Linked DNA regions of Homo sapiens. The protein of the gene in region 2 purifies or fractionates together with the protein of the main gene of each other region. This does not show direct contact. Each region holds a gene or a part of one and is shown on either strand. Other genes may lie near its edges. The genes, in order: TFRC, TSPAN14 and BCAM.

Region 1 (3,648 bases), on a different chromosome or scaffold from region 2:
GCCCCAGCTACTTCTGCTGAGGCAGGAGGATTGCTGGAGTCCAGCCCAGGCAACATAGCAAAATCCCATCTCTAAATAAATTAATAAAACTAATATTAAAGTAGCTTCCAGATTGTTTTATGGTACTAGGAGTTGATTTTTAACAGATCTCTTAATTGAAGTAAATCACTGACAACCGAATCTTTTTATATCTTTTTTATTTTTATTTTTATTTTATTTTTTTTGAGAGATGAAGTCTCGCTCTTGTCCCCCAGGCTGGAATGCAATGACATGATCTCGGCTCACTGCAACCTCCACCTCCCGGCTTTAAGCGATTCTCCTGCCTCGGCTCCCCAGGTAGCTGGGATTACAGGCGTGTGCCACCATGCCCAGATAGTTTTTGTGTTTTTAGTAGAAGCCGGGGTTTTACCATGTTGGCCAGGCTGAAGTGCAGTGGCGAGATCTCGGCTCACTGTAAGATGCGCCTCCCGGGTTCACGCCATTCTCCTGCCTAAGCCTCCCGAGTAGCTGGGACTACAGGTGCCGGCCACCACGCCCGGCTAATTTTTTGTATTTTTAGTAGAGCCGGGGTTTTACCATGTTGGCCAGGCTGGTCTTGAACTCCTGACCTCAGGTGATCCACCCACCTCGGCCTCCCAAAGTGCTGGGATCACAGGCATGAGCCACCACGCCCGGCATCTTATGTCTTTCTTGAAACTAATTGTAACTGTTGAAAATGGAACTTACCAGGTGGAAATAACTAAATCCTGAAGTACCTTGAACCAAAATGTTTTCCCCTATAGGGACATTTTCCCCCAAAAGGAGAATTGAACTGGAAACAATATAGTACATAGGATTATATAATTATGTTCAATTTCTTAATGAGAATGGTTTTCTTACATGCTGGGCTCAAATATGAGTGTATATCACAGTCCATAGAGCTTGGAACCCCTGTGCAAGGTGCTTTCGGAGTCTTGAGCTTATCTGCGAGTTCCTTTTATCAGAATCTTACTTAACGCACGTTAAATTAGAAAGGCATACAAAAGAATGTCCTTAGAAATAAAACTTCTCATAGCGAATAATGTCTGTTTCAGGAAATGGGCCTGAGTTTACAGTGGCTGTATTCTGCTCGTGGAGACTTCTTCCGTGCTACTTCCAGACTAACAACAGATTTCGGGAATGCTGAGAAAACAGACAGATTTGTCATGAAGAAACTCAATGATCGTGTCATGAGAGTAAGTGAACTTTTGGGAAAGGAGGAACTAAAGTATGTGTAAAATAACCGATAAATCTTACACTTCTGCAAAGTGGACAAACTCTAGGAGTCTAGAATTCCTTTAAGAAGGGAGCATTAATGGTTTAGCTGTCATTTTCTGTTTCTGCTGTCTAATTCAGAACTTAGTCAAACCTAGTCTTTTTGGAAGAGACTTGCTGTAAAACTTCCATGTATGCTCCAATGGGGAAAAGAATCTGAACACATTTAAAGTTTTCCTTTGTAAAATGAATCAGTTTCCTTTAAAAAAATTTTTTTTTTTTTTGAGACAGAGTTTCACTGTTGTTGCCCAAGCTGGAGTGCAATGGCACGGTCTCGGCTCACTGCACCCTCCACCTCCCAGGTTCAAGTGATTCTCCTGCCTTAGCCTCCCGAGTTGCTGTGATTACAGGTGCCCAACACCACGCCCGGCTCATTTTTTGTATTTTTAGTAGAAACGGAGTTTCACCATGTTAGCCAGGCCGGTCTCGAACTCCCAACCTCAAGTGATCCACCTGCCTTGGCCTCCCAAAGTGCTGGTATTACAAGCGTGAGCCGCTGTGCCTAGCCTCCTTTAGAATTTTAACCTTAGAAGATTAGCATTAGCCTGGTTCTCAGCATTCTTTTTTCCTTACTCTGCTATAGAAAGTCTGATCAGCTGGCTGGGTACAGTGGCTCATGCCTGTAATTCCAGTACTTTGGGAGGCCGAGGCAAGCGGATCACCTGAGGTCAGGAGTTCAAGACCAGCCTGACCAACATGGAGAAACCCCATCTCTACTAAAAATACAAAAATTAGCTGGGCGTGGTGGTGCATGCCTGTAATTCCAGCTGCTCAGGAGGCTGAGGCAGGAGAATTACTTGAACCCGGGAGGTGGAGGTTGCAGTGAGCTGAGATCGCGCCATTGTACTCCAGCCTGGGCAACAAGAGCGAAACTCTGTCTCAACAACAACAAAAAGCCGGGCACGGTGGCTCACACCTGTAATCCCAGCATGAATTGCTTGAACTCGGGAGGTGGAGGGTACCAGTGAGCCGAGATAGCGCTGTTGCACTCCAGTCTGGGCAACAAGAGCGAAACTCTGTGTCAAAAAAAAAAAAAAAAAAAAAAAGTCTGATCGGCATTCTTAAATTTGGGACATTTTACATTTGAAGTGAACTGTTGTTTTACTACAAAAGTCACAGGGCTGTGTAAATTGCCTTGTGTGTTGTTTTCGTAGGTGGAGTATCACTTCCTCTCTCCCTACGTATCTCCAAAAGAGTCTCCTTTCCGACATGTCTTCTGGGGCTCCGGCTCTCACACGCTGCCAGCTTTACTGGAGAACTTGAAACTGCGTAAACAAAATAACGGTGCTTTTAATGAAACGCTGTTCAGAAACCAGTTGGCTCTAGCTACTTGGACTATTCAGGGAGCTGCAAATGCCCTCTCTGGTGACGTTTGGGACATTGACAATGAGTTTTAAATGTGATACCCATAGCTTCCATGAGAACAGCAGGGTAGTCTGGTTTCTAGACTTGTGCTGATCGTGCTAAATTTTCAGTAGGGCTACAAAACCTGATGTTAAAATTCCATCCCATCATCTTGGTACTACTAGATGTCTTTAGGCAGCAGCTTTTAATACAGGGTAGATAACCTGTACTTCAAGTTAAAGTGAATAACCACTTAAAAAATGTCCATGATGGAATATTCCCCTATCTCTAGAATTTTAAGTGCTTTGTAATGGGAACTGCCTCTTTCCTGTTGTTGTTAATGAAAATGTCAGAAACCAGTTATGTGAATGATCTCTCTGAATCCTAAGGGCTGGTCTCTGCTGAAGGTTGTAAGTGGTCGCTTACTTTGAGTGATCCTCCAACTTCATTTGATGCTAAATAGGAGATACCAGGTTGAAAGACCTTCTCCAAATGAGATCTAAGCCTTTCCATAAGGAATGTAGCTGGTTTCCTCATTCCTGAAAGAAACAGTTAACTTTCAGAAGAGATGGGCTTGTTTTCTTGCCAATGAGGTCTGAAATGGAGGTCCTTCTGCTGGATAAAATGAGGTTCAACTGTTGATTGCAGGAATAAGGCCTTAATATGTTAACCTCAGTGTCATTTATGAAAAGAGGGGACCAGAAGCCAAAGACTTAGTATATTTTCTTTTCCTCTGTCCCTTCCCCCATAAGCCTCCATTTAGTTCTTTGTTATTTTTGTTTCTTCCAAAGCACATTGAAAGAGAACCAGTTTCAGGTGTTTAGTTGCAGACTCAGTTTGTCAGACTTTAAAGAATAATATGCTGCCAAATTTTGGCCAAAGTGTTAATCTTAGGGGAGAGCTTTCTGTCCTTTTGGCACTGAGATATTTATTGTTTATTTATCAGTGACAGAGTTCACTATAAATGGTGTTTTTTTAATAGAATATAATTATCGGAAGCAGTGCCTTCCA
Region 2 (3,648 bases):
GGCCAGCCCTTTCCCATTGGGATTGGGCAGGCAAGTCCAGCTGTACCCGAGGCCACCCACCCCCCACGTGCCCGGCCCTCCTCTTTCGGCCCCAGATCTTTCCAATCCTGCCCAATAGCCATACCAGCTGCAATCCTCCTTAGGCGCTGCATACCGTAAGGCACAGCTTCTTCCCCCCGGCTCATGACTCACCATCTGACGCTATTCCTATCCCCTTCCTCCCCGGGACCTTTTCCCCTTCCTCCCTGGGACCTTTTCCCCTTCCTGTTTAAGAAGCCAGGGCTGCCTGGAGGAAGCTTTGTCAGATCTAGTGGAATGTGACCTCCCTGGAATATGTGCCCAGGGGTTTGTCTAAGCAGTTCCAGGCTATGGCCTTTACTCCATCTGGTCCCCATCCCTCTTATCTCTCTCATGTGTGGCTGCACCTGGACGCTTGGACCATAGCTGTCACAGCCCCCTGGGGAGGAACCCACTCCTTGGCCATGTCAGCCTGTGCAATGCAAGGCTCTTGTTTGATCTGTGTGCTGACAGAAAGCCCAGCTTCCTTAAGAACTTTTCATGTGGAACACTTTGGTTTTGAGAAGAAAATAAATCAGAAACCATTAAAAATCTATGATTCACTCTCATTATTAACCAAAACTTGTTCACCTTTATTTCATGTATTATGGGATCCAGCAAAACCCATTTATGGGACCAAAGACCCTGCCTGTATTGTTATTACTAATGTGTATTAGTCTGTGAAAGTCACCAAATCCCCGCCATGTTTTGATGCCTCTCCTTTCTTTTCTGTTCAGTGCCACCGTCCTTTTTTCATTTTCACGTAGCCTTGGCTTGCCTGGTCTCAGCATGCTAGGTTGCGGTTCATCCCTGCATTGCCTTAAAAACATAGTTTTCTGCATTGACTTCTTTTTCTTTTAAAAATAAAACTTCTGGCCGGGCGCGGTGACTCACGCCTGTAATCCCAGCACTTTGGGAGGCTGAGGCGGGTGGATCACAAGGTCAGGAGATCGAGACCATCCTGGCTAACATGGTGAAACCCCATCTCTACTAAAAATACAAAAAATTAGTGGGGTGTGGCGGTGGGCACCTGTAGTCCCAGCTACTCGGGAGGCTGAGGCAGGAGAATGGTGTGAACCCGGGAGGCGGAACTGGCAGTGAGCCGAGATCACGCCACTGCAGTCCAGCCTGGTCAACAGAGCAAGACTCCGTCTCAAAAAAAAGATAAAATAAATAAATTAAAACAAAACAAAACAAAACTTCCCAGGGGAGGGATTCAGTAAATTACAGAGCTTCCTTGGAGTGAAATTTCAGGTAATCACTAAAGCAAGTGGAACCGTGGAGGTGTGGGGGAGACAATTTTACCTGAGAAGTAAGCAAAACAAAATAACCAACCAGAAATCACTGTTGTCATTTGTTGTGATTATTGCCATAACCATGTCAGCTGTAAGGGCAAATGCAAAGAAGTTTTTTAGGGGAAAAGACACTGTCAACTTCACAATGATGCTTTCAGTGTTTGGATTTTACACACTTTTTAGTCAAATAAGGATTTTCTTTGTAGCCACACCAGATGCGAGGAAGGGGAGGGCAGAGGCCCCAGGTGTGGGGCAGAGCTTTGATTGTGTTACCTTTCACCTTCATCGGACCTCTTTTCCTCAGGAGCAGACACTTAGCAGCTGTTTTTTGTAAAGGGGTGAAAAGGGGAATTCACTTGCAAGTTTCTCAGGGAGGAAGAACACTGCACACTAGGAAGTGTTCTCTTGTGGCAAGTAGAGGACCACACCAAGGTGCCGAGGGGGCCACAAAGGAGAGGACGCCACTCTCCTGTCTGAGGAGGCTGGAAGGAGGCGTCTCCTTTGAGGAGGCTGGGAAGAAGAGCAAGCTCCCTGCTAAGGAGGGCCAGGGCTGGGTATGTTGTGCCTGGCAGTGGGGCCAGAGGGCTCCACTGAGCCAGCCATGTGGGTTGGACAGAGGAGGCACCGTGGCCCGGAGATACCTTCACTGCCATTTCCTTTTTGTTATTATTTTCTTTAACACATCAAAAGGGCAGGTCCTCTCTCTCTCTCTCTCTCTCTCTCTCTCTCTCTCTCTCTCTCTCTCTCTCTCTCTCTCTCCCCTTTTTTCTTTCTCTCCTTTTCTCTTTCTCTCTCTCTTTCCTTTCTTTCTTTCTGATTGGGGGTGGGGGTCTTGCTGTGTTGCCCAGACTTGTTTCCAACTCCTGGGCTCAAACCATCTTCCCACCTCAACCTCCCGAGTCACTGAGGTTACAGGCCTGAGCTACTACGCCTAGCTGTTTTCTTCTTAAAGGGCTGCCTGGGTTGCCAGCTTAGCATCTCTGCACATGGGAGGTAGGGGGCGGGCCTTGATTTCTCTGCATGGTAGATGCCGGCAGACTTAGCCTGGCATCACTATGAATGATGCCCTATGCTGGGCAGCCATGGCCCTGTCTTGGAGCCCCTAACAGTTCTGGCTTTTGTGGTTGCAGAACCAGTGCTGTGGCGCATATGGCCCTGAAGACTGGGACCTCAACGTCTACTTCAATTGCAGCGGTGCCAGCTACAGCCGAGAGAAGTGCGGGGTCCCCTTCTCCTGCTGCGTGCCAGATCCTGCGGTGAGTTGGCTTGTGCTGGGGCACAGGGAGCCCGCCCTTCCTGAAGCCCAGAAGCTTTCCTGACTCCTCCAGTGCTCTAGGATACTTCTCTGTCATGGAGGTCTGAGGAGCAGGTGTGCTTTCTCCACACCCTCCTCAAGGCTGCCTCAGCTCTGAAATCCGATATGTGTACATTCTAGGAACACTGCTTGCATGACCCACCCTGGCCTTGGTGTTCTGGGTGAGGCAGGAGAAAAACAGTATTATTTCTACCTGGAGGGCTGTCACTTGCAGCTGGCCAAGAGCTATGAGTGAAATAAGGCCCGCTTATCCCTCTTCCCTGTCCTTTTTCTGGAGCAGATTCCTAGAACTCAACAGTGCACGGGGGCTGTGGGTACACATCATTAACTGGGGAACAGTAGTGGAGAATTATTTTCTTTCTTTTTCTCTTTCTTTTATTTTTGAGACAGGGTCTTGCTGTGTCGCCCAGGCTGGAGTGTAGTGGCATGATCTTGGCTCACTGGAACCTCTGTCTCCTGGGTTCAAGCGATTCTCCTGCCTCAGCCTCCTGAGTAGCTGGGATTACAGGTGCACGCCACCACACCCGGCTAATTATTTTCTGTTTGTTGTTGTTGTTGTTGTTGTTGTTGTTTGGTTTTATTTTAGAGACAGTGTCTCACTCTGTCACTCAGGCTGGAGTGCAGTGGTGCGATCTCAGCTCACTGTACAACCATTGCTTCCCCGGGCTCAAGCAATTCTCCAGCCTCAACCTCCCAAGTAGCTGGGACCACAGGCTTGAGCACCACACCTGGCTAATTTTTGTATTTTTTGTAGAGATGGGGTTTCACCATGTTGCCCCGGCTGGTCTTAAACTCCTGGGCTCAAAGCGATCTGCCCATCTTAGCCTCCCAAAGTGCTGGGATTACAGGTGTGGGCCGCTGTGCCTGTCCTGTCCTTTCTTTACCTATTGGCATTCCCAATCCAAGGCCAACGTCCTTGGGTTCCAGAAGCTGGGTTCTTGGGGTGAACTGTGAAGGAGCTCTGAATTTTGCCTGAACTGA
Region 3 (3,648 bases), on a different chromosome or scaffold from region 2:
TAGGTGGCAGGTGTTGCAGTCTGCTTTCCTGAGAAGCAGATTCTGACTTGGATGTTTTCAGGCAAGAAGTTTATGGGAAGTACCCTGGGTTCCGCACCTCTTGGGTCTAGGGAGGTAAAGGAAGCAAGATTTGGCAAGGTGAGAAGTTGGACTGAAGTCTAAGGAAGGTCTCAGGCTGGGTGCAGTGGTTCATGCCTATAATCCCAGCACTTTGAGAGGCTGAGGCAGGAGGATTGTATGAGCCTAGGAGTTTGAGGCCAGCCTGGGCAACAGAGGGAGACCCCATTTGCACACACACACACACAAATTAAAAATTAGCCAGGCATAGTGGCACACACCTGTAGTCCCAGCTACTCGGAGGCCCAGGTGGGAGGATCCCTTGAGTCTGGAAGGTTGAAACTGCAGTGAGCCAAGATTGTGCCACTGCACTCCAGCCTGAGCGACAGAGAAAGACCCCGTCTCAGGAAAAATAAAAATAAAAAAGTAGGCCGGGCCCCGTGGCTCATGCCTGTAATCCCAACACTTTGGGAGGCCGAGGTGGGTGGATCACCTGAGGTCAGGAGTTAGAGACCAGCCTGGCCAACATAGTGAAACCCCCTCTGTACTAAAAGTTAGCCGGGTGTGGTGGCATGCACCTGTAATCCCAGCCACTCAGGAGCCTGAGGCAGGAGAATCGCTTGAACCCAGGAAGCGGAGATTGCAGTGAACTGAGATCGTGCCATTGCACTCCAGCCTGGGCAACAGAGTGAGACTCCATCTCAGAAACAAATAAAAGAAAGAAAGAGGGCCTCAGTCAGCCCCACGGGGTACTTGGAATCCAGGATGGCCCTTCACAGTTGTCCCCAGTTGGGGTGAGGGGGCTGGGCCTTAATAACCTCTACATCAACCAGTCCTCAGAGGTGTGCTGGCCTTAGGCAAGGGGCTCTCAGCAGCTGAGGCAGCTCCCAGAGAGGGGTGACAGCTGCAGGCTGACAGCTGTCATCCTTCTTAGCAGCTGGTGGAATAAGTCCTTCCGTGCTGTAGGAAAGATCTGGGTGTCCACAATAGGGGAGGTCAGGGAAGCCTCTGAGAAGAGACATTTAAGTGAGACTCAGAAAAGCAGACAGCAGCCAGGCACAGTGGCTCACACCTGTAATCCCAGCACTTTGGGAGGCCGAGGCAGGTGGATCACCTGAGGTCAGGAGTTCGAGACCAGCCTGGCCAACATGGTGAAACCCCATCTCTACTAAAAATATAAAAATTAGCCAGGCATGATGGCTGGTGCCTGTAATCCCAGCTACCCAGGAGACTGAGGCAGGAGAATCGCTTGATCCTGGGAGGCGGAGGTTGCAGTGAGCTGAGATCGTGCCACTGAACTCCAGCCTGGGTGACAGAGCAAGAGTCTGTCTCAAAGAAAAAAGAAATTGGCCGGGCACGGTGGCTCACACCTGTAATCCCAGCACTTTTGGGAGGCAGAGGCGGGCAGATCATGAGGTCAGGAGTTTGAGACCATCCTGGCTAACACGGTGAAATCCCGTCTCTACTAAAAATACAAAAAATTAGCTGGGCGTGGTGGCAGGTGCCTGTAGTCCCAGGTACTCGGGAGGCTGAGGCAGGAGAATGGCATGAACCCAGGAGGCAGAGCTTGCAGTGAGCTGAGATCCCGCCACTGCACTCTAGCCTGGGCGACAGAGCCAAACTCTCTCAAAAAAAAATAATAAGAAGAAGAAATGCAGAGAGCTACAAAAAGAGCACTGCAAGTAGAGTGAGCAAGTGCAAAGGCCCTGAGGCAGGCCCCAACTTGGTCTACTCAAGAAAAACAGCAAGAGAACGGGGTAGCTGGGAGCACAGGAGGAATGGGGAAGAGTGGGAGATGGTTCAAGAGGTGGGTGAGGGCCAGACCAGGCAGCATCTTTTAGGCACCCTCAAGAAGTTTGGCCTCGATGCCAAGGGTACTGGGGAGCCACTGCAGGGTTTTATGCAGAGGGGAGGGATGACCAGTGGGTGGTTGGTTTTTTTTGTTTTTTTTTTTTTGAGTCAGAGTCTCACTCTGTCACCCAGGCTGGAGCGCAGTGGCACAATCTCGGCTCACTGCAACCTCCACCTCCCAGGTTCAAGCGATTCTCCTGCCTCAGCCTCCCAAGTAGCTGGGACTATAGGCATGCACCACTATGCCCAGCTAGCTTTTGGATTTTTAGTAGAGATGGGGTTTCACCATGTGACCAGGGTGGTCTCGAACTCCTGACATCAGGTGATGCACCCGCCTCGGCCTCCCAAAGTGCTGGGGTTATAGGCATGAGCCACCGTGCCCGGCCTGACCAGTGGATGTTTTAAAGAGGTCCCTCTAGCTGCTCAGTGGAGGATGGACAAGAGGGAGGAGCAGGCTAGTGAAGAGGTGGTTGGGACAGTCAAACCTGGGGCCAGAGGTGGCAGGAAGCCAGAGGATTTGTCCTGGGAGCAGACCAGATAAAGACTTGCTGAGGCCAGGAGCAGGGGCTCACGCCTGTGATCCTAGCACTTTTGGGAGGTCAAGACAGGAGGATCACTTGAGGCCAGGAGTTTGAGACCCAGCCTGGCCAACATAGCAACACCTTGTCTCTATTCAAAAACAAAACTTTGCAGAAAAGATGTTTGGGGGTAACAGGGAGGTTACCCCACAGGTTGGGGTTTGAGCAAAAGGTTTGTGTGCTAAAGTCACAGAAGGGACACCTTCCACACCTAAGGTTATTCATTAACCTTGGGCTCAGATGTCAGCTCTGAAGAAAAGTAATTGACTTGGGCATGTCAATGTTGGGGTTAGACTGCTAGATTTTTGGTTGGAGAGCCTGGATGGGAGAATGGAGATTTCATGGAGATGGGGTAAACCAGGAGGATTACTTGCTGTTCTCTGCTTCCAACTGTCCATTCATGTTTGCACCCCCGACCGCCCCTGGAGAGCCCCTAATTGAGTGGGTGGCGGTCTGGGACGAGTGACAGACTGTCCCCCACTGCAGATCTGGACCCCCTGGAGCTCAGCGAGGGGAAGGTGCTTTCCTTACCTCTAAACAGCAGTGCAGTCGTGAACTGCTCCGTGCACGGCCTGCCCACCCCTGCCCTACGCTGGACCAAGGTGAGAGGGAGAGGAGCCCCCTCGGGCCCTGCACTCGCACCCTCCTCTCTCCCCTCACTCCTCGCCCTCTCACAGCGTCCTCCTCCTCCTCTGCCCTTCCCAGGACTCCACTCCCCTGGGCGATGGCCCCATGCTGTCGCTCAGTTCTATCACCTTCGATTCCAATGGCACCTACGTATGTGAGGCCTCCCTGCCCACAGTCCCGGTCCTCAGCCGCACCCAGAACTTCACGCTGCTGGTCCAAGGTTCAGGGGGCAGGGAGGGGGTGGGCTTGGATGGGGACAGTGTGGGGTGTGGGACCTGGACAAACAGGACGAGTTCCTGAGTCCCTGGCTGGGGACTCCATCTTCTGCTCGATGCCTCTCTTCTCTCTCTCTCTCCTCTCCCTTCACTTTCTTCCCATCCCCACCACCCACAGGCTCGCCAGAGCTAAAGACAGCGGAAATAGAGCCCAAGGCAGATGGCAGCTGGAGGGAAGGAGACGAAGTCACACTCATCTGCTCTGCCCGCGGCCATCCAGACCCCAAACTCAGCTGGAGCCAATTGGGGGGCAGCGTAAG

What was found.
Region 1: the proteins of TSPAN14 (region 2) and TFRC purify together in Homo sapiens (co-immunoprecipitation; one large-scale study listed by IntAct). This does not show direct contact.
Region 3: the proteins of TSPAN14 (region 2) and BCAM purify together in Homo sapiens (co-immunoprecipitation; one large-scale study listed by IntAct). This does not show direct contact.

Annotation. Positions count from the first base shown.
Region 1 is NC_000003.12:196,050,984-196,054,631, reverse strand, and holds part of TFRC (transferrin receptor protein 1), read left to right. Parts: intron 1-1,073; coding exon 1,074-1,214; intron 1,215-2,447; coding exon 2,448-2,690; 3' UTR 2,691-3,648. UniProt on the Homo sapiens protein: Cellular uptake of iron occurs via receptor-mediated endocytosis of ligand-occupied transferrin receptor into specialized endosomes. Endosomal acidification leads to iron release.
Region 2 is NC_000010.11:80,509,662-80,513,309, forward strand, and holds part of TSPAN14 (tetraspanin-14), read left to right. Parts: intron 1-2,482; coding exon 2,483-2,608; intron 2,609-3,648. UniProt on the Homo sapiens protein: Part of TspanC8 subgroup, composed of 6 members that interact with the transmembrane metalloprotease ADAM10.
Region 3 is NC_000019.10:44,815,550-44,819,197, forward strand, and holds part of BCAM (basal cell adhesion molecule isoform 1 precursor), read left to right. Parts: intron 1-2,972; coding exon 2,973-3,088; intron 3,089-3,191; coding exon 3,192-3,333; intron 3,334-3,506; coding exon 3,507-3,643; intron 3,644-3,648. UniProt on the Homo sapiens protein: Transmembrane glycoprotein that functions as both a receptor and an adhesion molecule playing a crucial role in cell adhesion, motility, migration and invasion.